2 separate regions of the Homo sapiens genome follow, and region 2 is linked to region 1. Evidence: fine-mapped expression QTL. Tissue or cell type: whole blood. Region 1 holds a variant in brackets; the other region holds the start of a gene. All regions are shown on one strand. Distances are from middle to middle.

Region 1 (7,526 bases):
ACGGTGAAACCCCATCTCTACTAAAAATACAAAAAAAAAATTAGCTGGGCGTGATGGTGGGCGCCTGTAGTCCCAGCTACTCAGGAGGCTGAGGCAGGAGAATGGCATGAACCCGGGAGGCGGAGCTTGCAGTGAGCCAAGATTGCGCCACTGCACTCCAGCCTGGGCGAAAGTGCAAGACTTGGCCGGGCGCGGTGGCTCACGCGTGTAATCCCAACACTTTGGGAGGCCGAGGCAGGCGGATCACGAGGTCAAGACCATTCTAGCCAACATGGGGAAACCCCGTCTCTACTAAAAATACAAAAATTAGCTGGGCGTGGTGGCGGGCACCTGTAGTCCCAGCTACGCGGGGGGCTGAGGCAGAAGAATCGCTTGAATCCGGGAGGCGGAGCTTGCAGTGAGCCGAGATTGTGCCACCGCACTCCAGCCTGGGCGACAGAGCGAGACTCTGTCTCAAAAACAAAAAACAAAACAAAAAAACTGAGCTGGACATTTAAAAATGATTAAAATGAGCCTGGGAAACATAGTGAGACGTAGTGGGTGACAGAGCAAGAAAATATGGCTACAAATACGTATATGGTAGCCAGGCGCTGTGACTCACACCTGTAATCCCAGCACTTTAGGAGGCAGACGGAGATGGGCAGATCCCTTGAGCTCAGGAGTTTGGGACCAGCCTGGCCAACATGGCGAAATCCTGTCTCTACAAAAACTACAAAAATTACCCAGGTATGGTAGCACATGCCTGTGGTCCCAGCTACTCGGGTGGCTGAGGCAGGAGGATCACTTGAGGTAGAGGCTCAGTGACCGAGACTGCACCACCACATGCGCCCCAGAAGACAGAGTAACACCCTGTCTCAATTTAAAAAACAAAACAAAACCTGCCATCTTAACCATATACATATACACATATCATTAAGATGGCAGTTTTTTTGTTTTTTTTTTGTTTTTGGACAGAGTTTCGCTCTTGTCACCCAGGTTGGAGTGCAATGTCACGATCTTGGATCACTGCAACCTCCGCCTCCCAGGTTCAAGTGATTCTCCTGCCTCAGTTTCCCAAGTAGCTGGGACTACAGGCGTGGGCTACCACGCCCAGCTATTTTTCGTATTTGTAGTAGAGACGGGGTTTCACCATGTTGGCCAGGCTGGTCTCCAACTCCTGACCTCAGGTGATCCACCCAGCTTGGCCTCCCAAAGTGGTGGGAATACAGGTGTGAGCCACCATGCCCGGCTAAGATGGCAGATTTTTTTTTTTTTTTTGAGACGGAGTCTTGCTCTGTTGCCCAGGCTGGAGTGTAGTGGCGCAATCTCAGCTCACTGCAAGCTCCGCCTCCCGGGTTCATGCCATTCTCCTGCCTCAGCCTCCCAAGTAGCTGAGACTACAGGCGCCCACCATGACGCCTGGCTAATTTTTTGTATTTTTAGTAGAGACGGGGTTTCACCTTGTTAGCCAGGATGGTCTCGATCTCCTGACCTCGTGATCCATCCGCCTCAGCCTCCCAAAGTTCTGGGATTACAGGCGTGAGTCACCGCGCCCGGCCTGATGGCAGATTTTTTTAACGGTAAATTATATATTATGTGTATTTTAACACAGTTTTTTTTTTTTTGAGAGACAAGAGTCTTGATCTGTTGTCCAGGCTGGATTGCAGTGGTGCAATAAGCTCACTACAGCCTCAACTTCCTGGGTTCAAGCAATCTTCCTGCCTCAATCTCCTGAGTGGTTGAGACTACAGGCACACCCCACCTACCCTGCATCTGGCTAATTTTTTTTTCTTTTGAGACGGAGTCTTGCTCCGTGGCCCAGGCTGGAGTGCAGTGGCACGATCTTGGCTCACTGTAAGCTCCGCCTCCCGGGTTCAAGCCATTCTCCTGCCTCAGCATCCCAAGTAGCTGGGACTACAGGCGCCCGCCACCACACTCGGCTAATTTTTTGTATTTTTGGTAAAGATGGGGTTTCCCTGTGTTAGCTAGAATGGTCTCGATCCCCTGACCTCGTGATCCGCCCGCCTCGGCCTCCCAAAGTGCTGGGATTACAGGTGTGAGCCACCACGCCCAGCCAACATCTGGCTAATTTTTTAATCTTTAATAGAGATCAGATCTTGCTATGTTGCCCAGGCTGACAACTTTTTTGAATTGGAAAATTTTCTTAATTAAAAAATTTTATCTGAGAAGGGACTTGCATCTAGAATATATAAAGAGCTCTCATCACTCAACAACAAAAAGACAATTACACCAATTGGAAAATACAGGAAAGACCTGACTAGACAGCTCTCTAAAAATACACAGTGGTCAATAAGCACATGAGAAGATGCTCAGTATCATCTTCTCTCATTAGGGAAATGTAGATCAAAGCCACAGTGAGATACCACTGCACATCTACTAGCATGGCTAGAATTCAAAAGATGGATAATAACAAGTGCTGACAAGGATATGGGGAAATTGAATCCTTTTTACACTGCTGGTGGGAATGTGAAATGGTGCAGCCACTTTGGAAACAGTCTGGTAATTCCTCAAGAGAATAACCACAAAATTACCATATGACCCAAAAATTATATTCCTAGGCGAGCTGTTTTTACTCATGCTTTTAATAACAAACATGGGTGTCTCTTTCAACCCCACTTCTCCAACTCTCCGACACTAGGTGGGTGTCCTACAATTCAAGTAAAGTCTGGCACTACCTTCTGCGGTATAGGAAGGTAAGGTTGAAAGCGCTAACCCGCTAATCCTCCCTTGGCCTTTCTGGAGACCAGCTCCCATCCTGAAGCTATATCTAGGGCCCCCAGCCACCAGTTCTCTCATTAGCATACTAGACACTCTTAGGACTACAAAGGTCCCAAGGGCTTGGGGAGCTCCATGTCAGGAGAACAAAAAATCCTCCTACCACCCCTTTCAAAATTGATGGAGGTCATGATCCCACAGCTCTGTGAACATAAAACTGAAATCTACTAGCTTGTACACATTAGTGAATGAATTGTATGGCATGTGAACTATAACCCAATAAAGCTGGCACAAAGGGGGAGGTATGTATGCCCACTCAACAGAGTTTCTGTAAAGTTTAGGAGAAATAAAGTATGCAAAAGCCATCTGTAAGCAGCTCAACACTGCACTGTTAGGATCAGCCAATCGTGCAGGAACAGCTCCCTCTGGCCCTGCACCAACCTTCTGGTCTAAAATCACAGCTCAACATCCAGCCTAGGGACAAAGCAGGGCACGGATGCCAGCTGCCAGCTGTGAGCCAGCACAGCTGCTGGCTTGCAGGAGCCTTGATCTGCAGAGGCCCAGATTCCCACAGCCCAGGGTTGCCAGGTCACCTCCTCCAACAAAGCCCGGGTGTTCCGCTCGTCCCTAGGGGAAGAACATGCCAGGTCTCCACTGAGGGTGGCCACTTAAGTGGGCACTTTCAATCCAGCAAAACACACAGCTCATCCAACACCCGACCCTACTACCCTCCCCAAAACTCCTCCAAGTTATGCGGCCCAAGGCCCTGGCTGCCCAGTCGGCGTCGCAAGTGAGACACCATGGGCACAAAATATTCCCAGTCATCCTACCTTCCAGTAATGCAGGCTCCACAGGGTGGGAGATCAGCCCTGGGCCCAACCACCTGGACGGGAGCGCAGCACCCTCGCCGGGGCCCCACACATCCCTGGCCAGCCACCAGCCTCCTGGAAGATGCCTGCCTCCCAAACTCACAGAGCCGGAGAGCCCTGGCAAGCAGCTTCATCCTGCGGTAAGTGGGCAAACTGTTTACCCAGTGACAAGTATGATGCCCAGCAGAGCCCAAGCCTGTGTCTGCCTGGCCGGCTCAGCAGTGAGCCGGTGTGATCCCTCCCTGATAGAAAGCACCAGGCTCCTGCTCCTCCTAGGACCGCCCCTCCCCCACCAGCCCCCGGCAAGCCGCCTCCTCGGCTTCCGGAACTGGATCACAGGATGTTCTCTACAAAAGACCAGTGATGCAAGGAATCCATGACTCGGCCTGAACTCACAGACAGGGAAACAGGACAGGGCCACCACCCCTCTGCGGGAGAGGATGAACTGGGTGGGGCCACAAGCAACACTCATAAGGGTTCCCACCTCCAGGACCTTAAACCTCGCACCACTCAGGCTGGCCCTCAGGCAAGTAGAAGAATGAGTTCCACCTGGGCGGAGTTCCACCTGGGCAGAGAGGTCTTGGCTCACAGGCACCGGGAGAGCTGGAAGGCTGCGGGGAAGCCGAGGAAGGCCAACACACCGCACAACACGGCAGGTGCCTGGCCCTCCTCTGACAGTGGCCCTCAAGCTCCAGGAGGGCCGAGGAAAATGCAGATTCCTGGGCCTACCCCTCCCTGACCTTCCCCGCCCCTGGAGTTAGAGG[C/T]AGTAGCTCTGGGGTGGAGGCTCAGGAGCCTGGTTTTCTTTTTATTCTTCATTGTGGTAAACATCAAATGCTTACAAGAGTAGAGGGAGGAGGGAGTGAACCCCTATGTCCCCATCAAGCAGCCCCAAAACAGTCAGCTCAGGGCACCTCTGGTCTCTGCTCCCACCTGCTCCCCATGCCAGGTTATTCTGCAGCAAATCCCGGATTTCCCAGTACGACATCGTAAATATGTCTGCATTTCCTCTCAAAGATAAAAGCTCCTTGTGAAAAACCTAAAGGAGGGGTATGGTGACTCATGCCCACAATTCCAGCACTTTGGGAGGCCGAGGTGGGAAGATCACTTGAGCCCAGGAGTTCAAGACCTGCCTCGGCAACAAAGTGAGATCATGTCTCTACAAAAAATCTTTTTAACATTAGCCAGGCACAGAGGCGTGCACTCGTAGTCCCAGCTACTCGAGAGGCTGAGGTGGGAGAATCCCTTGAGCCCAGAAGGTTGGGGCTGCAGAGAACCATGATTGCACCACTGCACCACTTAGTTGCCTGGCCAACTAAGCGAGACCCTGTCTCAAATAAAAATAAAAACCACAAAACAAAGATCTCATCTAAAATATCATCCAAATTCCTAATATCATTAAATAGCAAGTGACTTCACGTTTCTGTCCTAAATGAATTGAAATCTGCATTTGTGAACTTCATTCACAAGATCCCAAGTCTCTGTGGCCTGGTGAAGAGAAACTGCAGTGTGCAGGGAACAGGGTAATACAGGGCTACGGGGACACAGGAGCGAGGCCCAGCACTGAGCTCGATCCGGTTCCATCGACACGAAATTCTAGAAGAGGCACAGCGAGTGAGTGAAAGCAGATCTTTTTGCCAGGGGCCAACAGTAGGGGAATTTTGGGAGTTTGGAAATATTCGACATCACAACTGGGCCCGCCACTACTCAGTGTGCACACTCATCAAAACTCAGCAAACTGTACGTTTCAAATATTCTTGTGTATGCATTCTAAATCTATCTCAATAAAGCTGGTTTAAAAAAGCAAACTACAAAACAATTATCCTACCTTAAAAAAAAAAGCAGTGATTCCTTAAAATCATTATCAAGGGACTATTCAAGTTTCCCCATTATCTCCTCAATCTTCATCTTGTTGACTCTCTGCTGAAGTACTGTTCACATGCAGAAAACCCATATTTGTAACAGACTTCCCCAGTTATTCCCATGCAGGGGTCCAAGGATGGGGAGGCACATCCTTGATCCCCCTCCCCAGGAGGGCTCTGAGAGTGAGAGGCCAAGGGGTGGGATGGCAAGACAGCCTATGGGGTCACCCCCTGGTGCAGGCTACACAGGCCAGGTGGGTCACACAGGAGAAAGCCACTTCTGGTCTGACCAGAACTGGGGAGCCAGCTAGCTGCAGGTGCCAATTCCAGGGCAATGCCAGGCTAAGTGGCCCACTTACAGCGTGAGGTTGGACAGTGGGTAGACAAAGGCCTCCCCACGCACAGGCTCTCTGGGTTACAAAGACTGCATCTTCACCCAGGGTCCACACATCCCAGCAGCAAGAGAGCCAGCACTGTAAATCATTTTGCGGAATGCTCCAGAATACAAGCTCTGAGTGTGGCTTCTGTAAATCAGGTTCTTTGTTTTTTTTTTTTTCTTTTTTTTTGAGACGGAGTTTTGCTCTTGTTGCTCAGGCTGGAGTGCAATGGCACAATCTCGGCTCACTGCAACCTCCGCCTCCCAGGTTCAAGCGATTCTCCTGCCTCAGCTTCCCAAGTAACTGGGATTACAGGCACCCGCCACTACGCCCAGCTAACTTTTTTTTCTTTTTTTTTGAGACCAAGTCTCACTCTGTCGCCCAGGCTGGAGTGCAGTGGCGGGATCTCAGCTCACTGCAAGCTCCGCCTCCCGGGTTCATGCCACTCTCCTGCCTGCAGCCTCCCCAGCAGCTGGGACTACAGGCGCACACCGCCACGCCCGCCTAATTTTTTGTATTTTTAGTAGAGATGGGGTTTCACTGTGTTAGCCAGAATGGTCTCCATCTCCTGACCTCGTGATCCGCCCACCTGGGCCTCCCAAAGTGCTGGGATTACAGGCGTGAGCCACAGCGCCTGGCCAGGTTCTTTCTTTTCATTAATTCCATTATAAAACCAAAGACAGAGCCCGGCCTGGTGCAGTGGCTCACACCTGTAATTCCAGCACTTTGGGAGGCCGAGGCGGGCAGATCACTTAAGGTCAGGAGTTCGAGACCAGCCTGGCAAACACAGTGAAACCCCGTCTCTACTAAAAATACAAAAATTAGCCGAGTGTGGTGGTGGGTGCCTGTAGTCCCAGCTACTCGGGAAGCTGAGGAGAGGAGAATTGCTTGAACTGGGGAGGCAGAGGCTGCAGTGAGCCAAGATCCTGTCACTGCACTCCAGCCTGGGTGACAGAGTGAGACTCTCTTAAAAAAAAAAAAAAAAAAAGGCCGGGTGCGGTGGCTCACGCCCGTAATCCCAGCACTTTGGGAGGCCAAGGTGGGAGGACCACAGGGTCAGGAGATCGAGACCATCCTGGCTAACACAGTGAAACCCCATCTCTAATAAAAATACAAAAAAAAATTAGCCGGGTGTGGTGGCGGATGCCTGTAGTCCCAGCTACTCAGGAGGCTGAGGCAGGAGAATGGCGTGAACCCGGGAGGCGGAGCTTGCAGTGAGCCGAGATCGCGCCACTGCACTCCAGCCTGGGCAACAGAGTGAGACTCCGTCTCAAGAAAAAAAAAAAAAAAAGACAAAGGTAGAGCCCCTCTTTGTCTTTTCCCTTGGGGGAAATAATTCTAACCCCATAACATACTGAAACTCATAGCCACTCAGCTGCTGTTTATTGACCTGTCAACTAGACCTCAGACACTATTCTAGGCATTCATGGTACCACATGGTACAACACAATTCCTGATCTCAGGAAACTTCCTGGTAGATCTGCATCTAAGAGCATGGCAAGCAAAGAAAACACAAAAAAACCTTGTAGATTTCACACATCTACCTATAAATAAAGCATGCCAAGTTATCTGCCTGCTGGGTGGTGTCCATGCCAAGGTCCCCCTCCATCAGCATGGTTATTCCAGAGCTGGCTACAGTCCCCAGAAAGCCTTGGAGCTTCCTTTAGGAACACCCTGCCCCCCACAGACCTACTAGTAAATTGATG
Region 2 (7,526 bases), 39 kb after region 1:
CTTAACGCTTTAAGGCTCGCTAACCTGCATTAACCCTCATAAAAGACCTAACAAGTAAGAATAAATCCTTCAACAGATTTGGCCCAGCAGGGCTTGGAGGAACCTGAGACCTTGTTCTCCGTGGTTGAGGCCAGTTTGACTCCATAGGCCTCCCCTAAGACAATTAATTGTTCTTTAAGAGCTCAAAAAACTCTGTGGATCTTTTCCCTCTCATCCCCAGGCCAAGCGACTTAGCTTGGCTGACTCAGGTCTGCACCCACAAGTCCGCCTGCAGCATCTGCATCTTGGGGAGGGACTGACCCTAGCTCCTGGGAGAAAAAGGCTGAAGGAGGAGGCTCCCCTTAGAACATCCCCCTCCAGGTTTGCGGACCACCATTTGAAGACTGAATGGCAGGGGAGCAAACACCATTTCCATTGCCAGTTACCCCCAGTTAAAAATATTTCTTCCTCTACTCTCCCATTGGGTAAAGGACTTTAACCAAGTAACCCACAGTTCTCTTCAACTCAAGGATTTTCAGGTTTTGCTGGTTACTTGGAAGGAGTGGTCTGGAATCAGAGGAACGTTAAAGACAGCTAGGTGGGCAAATGTCGGGTGCAGGCTTTAGGGGAACTGGGACCACCTAGGATACAGTAAGGATACACTCCACCCCTGGTCCCTATTCTTGGGAAGTGCCCTGGCCCTTGGGTTGAGGAGAAACCTGGGGTGGGCTGGGGTGAGCCCAGCAGAGGGGTGAGAGAAGCCCTCCTGGGGAGAGAATCCCTAAGCTGATAGCTGGAGGGTGGGAGACTCTAGGGGTGCTGTGGGCAGAAGGAACCTTGGGTGGAGAGGAAAGAAGAGCCCAGAAGGCTCAGCCAGGGAGTGAAAGCTTTGCCACTTCCCATCTGTGTCATCTCAGGCAAAATGCTTTAAAAAAACAAAACAAGGCTGGGCGTGGTGGCTCATGCCTGTAATCTCAGCACTTTGAGAGACCAAGGTGGGCAGATTACTTGAGGTCAGGAATTCGAGACCAGCCTGGCCAACATGATGAAACCCCATCTCTACTAAAAATACAAAAAATAAAAAAATTAGCTAGGCATGGTGGCGGGCAGACACCTGTAATCTCAGCTACTTGGGAGGCTGAGGCAAGAGAATCACTTGAACCTGGGAGGCAGAAGTTGCAGTGAGCCTAGATTATGCCATTGCAATCCAGCCTGGGTGACAAGAGTGAAACTCCATCTCAAAAAACAAACAAACAGGCCGGGCACAGTGGCTCACGCCTGTAATCCTAGCACTTCGGGAGGCCAAGGTGGGCAGATCACGAGGTCAGGAGATCGAGACCATCCTGGCTAACACAATGAAACCCCGTCTCTACTAAAAATACAAAAAATTAGCTGGGCGTGGTGGCAGGCACCTGTAGTCCCAGCTACTCGGGAGGCTGAGGCAGAAAAATGGCGTGAGCCTGGGAGGCGGAGCTTGCAGTGAGCTGAGATTGTGCCACTGCACTCCAGCCTGGGCGACAGAGCAAGACTTGTCTCAAAAAAAAAAAAAAGAAAAAAAGAAAAAAAACCCTCCCTATCTCTCCATGCCTCATTATCCCCGACTGTGAACTGGGAACAATAGTTGTACCTCTCTCATAGCACCTCTGGATTAAATATCCATGTGAAGCATGGTGAGCACTTGGTGGGTGGTACAGATTTCATAAAAGTGCTACTGCTGCCGTGAGCTCCCTAGGGCTGCTGGGGAGGACCCAATTGGCCCGGTGGACATGGGAGAGCCCGGAGAGGACAGAAGCCTGGCAGGAAGGGCCTGGCTCACAGCCTGAGTTTGAGTCATGTCCCGAAAGGAGTCTGAGAGGTTGGTCAGCAGGGGTGGGTGCTCACATGTGGCACTAATGGAGATGTCATTAACAACAGTGGCAGGGGCTCAGGGGCATCTGCTCAGCCCACTGGAATAGCAATAAAGCATCACCTAGCCCTGGCCCACAAAATCACAAAACCATGTGCTAGATGAGCTCGTCCATGACCAAGGTGGCCACCTTAGGAGTGGAGAACACAAATTGCAGGGCCTTTTGGAATGGAGGAGGCCCAGGGGAGGGGTGCCCAAGACAAGCCATTTTAGCACCTCCTCCCAACAGTACCCCTGCCACTTGCTGGCCTCACGGCACACCTGCCTCTGGGCACCCAGAGGAGGGCAGCGCCAGCCGCAGTGAGCCTGTTGCTTTGGCCACCAGCTCCAGCAGCGAGGCTGCGAGGAAATGACTCCTCCTTCCTTTTGTCTGCAAACCACTGGGCAAGCGTCCCAGATTCCAGCGGCCACAGGTCCCATGGAGAGAGTGAGGGCGATCTGGCCTGGTGGAAGTCGTTGGAAACCCACCTGGCTAGGCACAGCCCAGCAGCTCCAGTTACCTGGGCACCTGGGAGCGCGGGAGGCCATCACGCAGGTCGCCACTAGGTGGCAGGCCCAGGGAAAGGACCGGAGGCAGCTGCCGAGTTTAGCACTATGAGTTTAGCACTATGACTCCCACTGTTCCTGGAAGGGGCTTCCTTCATTCTACAGCATTTCCAGTGCTGACTGTGCCAGGCTGGGGCTGGGGCGGAGTGAAACCTTCAGCCCGGGGTGGGGCCAAGCCCCCACGGGACTCCAGAGGGGGTGGGTGTTGGGACAGGAAGGGCACAGGGTGCTTCAAGATCGCTGATAGGCCGCCTGCACTCCCACAGCCATGTAGCTCCCACCTTCTGTCAGCTTTTCCTCGCGTCCTTTGGGCACTAGCCGCTCCCACGGCTGGTGTTCAGTGGAGCCTGCAGGGTGGCTTGGCACACATTCGCTCTCCTGCCCGCGCCCTCTGGCACTTTCCTGAGCCCCTGCAGGGGTCTCAGCCCCCTCTCTCTGGATGCCGGCGCTCCCGCGTCTCCCCACAAGCCCTAACCTCCCACCCATCCCTGCCTTCTGTGTGGCTGGAAGCCCCTCCACACCGACAGCGGCTGCGGGCGGCCTGAGGCCATGGCGTTCCCAGCGCACTAGTGGTTCCCGTCCTGCCTTCCTGCCCTCCCCGCTGGAACCTCTGGGGGCAGTTCTCGGATCTGGAGGGACCCTGGAAGGCAGGGCTCTTTGCAATCTCCGGGGATTTCGACCCAGAGCCCTTCAGGGACGTGGCAGGGCTGCTCCTGCCTCAGGGCCGTTGTCCTCGTGCTCCTCACCCCGCCTGGAATACCCTTCTCGCCGCTCAAACCCAGCCCCACGGCACCTCCTCAGAGACCTTTCCCTGTCCGCCCACGCGGTCCCGACAATCACTCCCCATCACCTCTGGAATTGCGTCGCCGGCGCCTGGAACCGCAGTTAGCGGGCACTGGGCAGATGAATGAATTTGTCTGTGCCTGGACGGCTCTCCAATTCGAACCCAGTTTTGCTGCCCTCTGGGGTCTCAACTGTTACGTGAGGCAAATTAGGAGAGAAGCCCCTGGGCACCTTGCCCCAGTCGCACGAGTGTCCCCGCGTCGCGGCGGGGGCGGGCGGGGAACTCGGGCGGAGGCTGCGGGGCGGGGCGGGGCGGGGTGGGGGCGGGCCCGAGTCTTAAGCCGGCGTCCGCGGGCTCCGGCCCCAGAGCGCGGCGGAGCGGAGCGCCAGGCAGCGCGGAGCGGAGGCCAGGCCCACAGCCGCTCCGCCTCCCGGCCCGCAGATCCCCGACGGCCGCACCGCGGGCTCCTCTGGCCCGCAAGAACACGTGCATGGCGTCCTGGGGAAGGCGCTGAGTGCGGAGTCGCGGCGCCGCACGCGGCACCATGGCCCTGGAGCAGGCGCTGCAGGCGGCGCGGCAGGGCGAGCTGGACGTGCTGAGGTCGCTGCACGCCGCAGGCCTCCTGGGGCCCTCGCTGCGCGACCCGCTGGACGCGCTGCCCGTGCACCACGCGGCCCGCGCTGGGAAGCTGCACTGTCTGCGCTTCCTGGTGGAGGAAGCCGCCCTCCCCGCCGCGGCCCGCGCCCGCAACGGCGCCACACCGGCCCACGACGCCTCCGCCACCGGCCACCTCGCCTGCCTGCAGTGGCTGCTGTCGCAGGGCGGCTGCAGAGTGCAGGTGGGTCCGCGCGGTTCGCCAGGGGCACTGAGGCTTCCTCCTCAGGACAGAGTCCTGGCCCAGAGTCCCCCGGGGCTCAAGGATGGGTGGGGTTTGGCACCTCCTGGCCCAGCTGAACCCTGCACGGAGCTCCTTCCAGAGGCCCTCAAGTGAATGGGCTCCCTGGCTTGCCAGTACTGGGGCAGATGCCCTGGCGAGCCTGGGTGCTCCCTGGAAGCGCACCTGGGTGATGGGAGCCAGAAGGGAGGGGCCTCCGTGGGGCTTGTGGTTACTAGTGTGTACCGGGAGAAGCAAAGCACTGATCCTGTAGTCCTGGAAGTGGGTGGGACGTGAGGCCTGGGCAGCAGAGTCAGACGCCCGTGTCCTCCAGGACCGGATCTGAAAGGAGGCTGGGCAAAGTCCCACAGCCCACCCGAGGCTGAGATTCAGGTGTCCCAGCCAGGGTGTGGGGGAAGGGTGATGAGCCGTGGTAAATGGGGGTCTCCCCATAACCCAGGCTGACCCCAGGACATCAGTGCTGTCAAGCTGTCAGCTGCTTCTCCAACCCAGGCTGATTCTTGCTGCCTCCAGACCCCACCTGGTCACTCTGAGCAGTGACCTCCAAGGGGAGTCCTGGCTGCTGAGAAGCAGGTAGCCAGGCAGCGGTGGGACAGTTCCAGGCACAGGGAACAAGAAGTGCAGAGCCCTGAGGCATGCACGCTCTTGTCCTGTCGGAGGGCCAGCCTCAGGCATCATGTTCAGAGTGGGTGAGGAAGGGAAAAGCTGCCAGGGCCAGGCCAGAGAGTATCATAGGCCGAGGTTAGGGATTTGGATGAAATTCTGGGTGTGGGGGCAGCCATGGGAGGGAGGAACCACAACCGATTTCCACTTAGACCACTGGGTGACCTGGAGATGGAAGGGGAGGAGTCAGGGTAACTCTAAACTGGCTTACTATGCCCCAAAGATGGCCAGGCCAACCCCACCTTCTGCCTTCAGATAGCAAGCCCCTCTTCCCACCCTTCCTGGGAGATGGCCCACCTGCTATCTCTCAGTGGGCCCTGTTACCAGGGCTTCCTGGCCAAGTGGCCCATGCCCACTCTTTTGGGCGGTGGCATGCCTCCCAGATCCAGTGTCCAGCCCTGGCCAGAAGCCTCTCTGGCCAGTGCAGAGGAGCTGGGAGAAGCAGGTGGCCTTGGGCCCAGCTTATCGTCTCCTGCCCTCTGGGCTGGGCAGGCTTGGGTGTGGGGGGAGAAAGTGTGGGGGGGATGACCTGGATCCTTGGGCTTGCCCAGCCCAGAGAGATAAGCTGCTTTAGGGTGTGGTCCACCACGCACGAGGCTCCTGGGGCCTGGACACCTGGACAGCCTGGACAGGCACAGGCCAGAGCCCACAGGCCTGTGGCCCTCTCCTTACAGTTTCCACCACTTAGAGGCCCAGAGCCAGTGGGACCCCTGGAGCTTCAGACCCACAGTCCCCAAGGCCAATAGGAAGGGAGCGCCTTTCTCAGGAGCTGGGGCTTAGGTCACATTTCACCATGGTTCTGCCTGGGTGCCCGCTAGCCAGCCCCGACCTTTGGGCTCGGAGGGGACAGACTGAACCAGTCTCTGGCCCCCCCACTCCCAGCTTTCTAGCACACAGGAGGGGCCTCGGTGTTGTCCTCAGCTTCCTATGGGCCATCACATTCTCTGCCCCATCTTCCTCCCTGCCTCCTTAGCAGGACAGCCAGACAATTGCCCCCACCCCGCAGGCTGCCTGAAGACCCTACTAGTGGCCCCGGCGCCCCCAGCTCCCTCCGTGCCCTCTTTTCCTTGCATTTCTCACGGGAGCCTCAGAGGTTCTCTTCCCACCGTGATTTGACTTCCTGAGGCCTGGGGTCTCTTGCCAGCTCCTGCCGCCTCTGCCAGTCTGTAACCACAGTGCCCTCTCTCTGGGCAAGGCGGGGCAGAGAGGCTTTACTCCCTGATCCTAGTGAAGTGTGTCCACTGCATCCTGCACCCAGAACCCTGCCCACCCCTCTGTCATCCTATGTGCTTGGTGCTGGGAGGTGGTTCTGTTCCCGAACCAGTACCCACTCTGCCAAGTGCGGCAGCCTCTGTGTCTAGATGTTCCCGGGAATTCTCCTCCCAGCACAGGTCCTGTAAGCACTCCCCTCCAGCCCCTTTCTCAGCAGACACACACAATGGGGTGTGCACTGATGACACATTCAGCAGTTCTGGGCCCAGACCTCTGGCCCCACCTGCTCTGAGGTCCCCGGGGGGAGTTTTGTCCAAGCCCTCCCAGAGGCCACCACTAGCCTGCACCTAGCACCCCTGGCTGACTGCCCCGGACCCGCCCACCAGTACCCAGCAACTTCCACCTCCACAGGGGCGAGAACACAGGCTGCTCCTGTGGCTGGGCACTGGCGAGTCTGCTGGGGGAGGGGCCGGTTTTCTGCACTGAGGTTGGGTTCCTGGAGGCGTACCAAGGTGGAGGTCTCTGTTCCCACGTGACACCGAGGAAGGGTGGAGAGATCGGGGGCAAGTGTTGGATGCAGGGGGTGACCCCCAATCCTGATGCTAGCTTGGTACAGCCCCACAGCCCCCCTTCCTGGCCCTGCTCAGCCCAGTAACCCTGTGTCACTCCTTCAGGCATTCCCTGAGTCCCTGGGAGTCAGGGCTGTGGCCCTGGGCCTGGTGCCAGTCTCCTGCCGTGACAACCAGGTGCCTGTCGTGTAGGCAGCTCGCAGTCAGGACCTGCAGCCTCTGAAAACCCTGCACGGTGCTGCCTATTGGCTACGGTTCAGAGAGGGCCAGTTAGTTGCCCAAGGACAGAAGCAGGACTCAAACCCAGGATCCGCTTGACCCAAAAAAAACATTGCTGAATGAGGCCTGGCCAATCCCTCCAGGGAAGACAGAGAGCACAGAGCTACCTTCCAGGCCTGTGGGAGTCTGGGAGTGGCCCAAGCCAGGGGCGGGGCAGCAACAGGCTTTAGGACTTGAACCAGCTCTCCTCCCACAGGACAAAGACAATTCTGGTGCCACAGTCTTGCATCTGGCTGCCCGCTTCGGCCACCCCGAGGTGGTGAACTGGCTCTTGCATCATGGCGGTGGGGACCCCACCGCGGCCACAGACATGGGCGCCCTGCCTATCCACTACGCTGCCGCCAAAGGAGACTTCCCCTCCCTGAGGCTTCTCGTCGAGCACTACCCTGAGTAAGATCACCCCTCTTAAGGGGTCCTCTGGGTGGGCTGGGCCAGGGCTTTGGGGGATGCCTGGGATTTTCCACGCCTCTCTGGCACTCCAGGGCAATGATCCCTCCAGTGGCCATCCTGGGGCCAGAGGGCCAGGCCAGAGAAATGGCTCCCACTCAACATGAAATTTTCCCCTCCTGGAAAACCCCTTCTGGGGCTGCCCCCAGAGCCCTGCAAGCAGGTGCTCCCAGCATCCTCAGCTGCCCGGCCGCACACAGCTGGACCTGGGAGGCTGGGCACACAGGCCAAGGTCACCTGTTCCCC

Evidence for each region. PIP is the estimated chance that this variant, and not a neighbour inherited with it, causes the effect.
Region 2: it holds the start of ESPN, and the variant in region 1 is fine-mapped to the expression of ESPN in whole blood (TOPMed, PIP 0.94).

The regions. Positions count from the first base shown.
Region 1 is chr1:6,381,949-6,389,474 of GRCh38, forward strand. All of the region lies in intron 1 of ACOT7 (acyl-CoA thioesterase 7), which reads right to left. Among named protein-coding and RNA genes, the nearest start is that of ACOT7, 8.1 kb to the right of the region's middle. RefSeq lists an enhancer at 3,817-4,802. The variant C/T (reference allele first, on the strand shown) is at 4,349.
Region 2 is chr1:6,421,197-6,428,722 of GRCh38, forward strand. It overlaps ESPN (espin), which reads left to right and starts at 3,580. Exons shown (of 13, transcript NM_031475.3): 1 at 3,580-4,053; 2 at 7,030-7,223. The coding sequence starts at 3,760. RefSeq lists enhancers at 2,295-2,909, 2,910-3,523, 7,362-7,481 and silencers at 3,520-3,679, 3,710-3,759.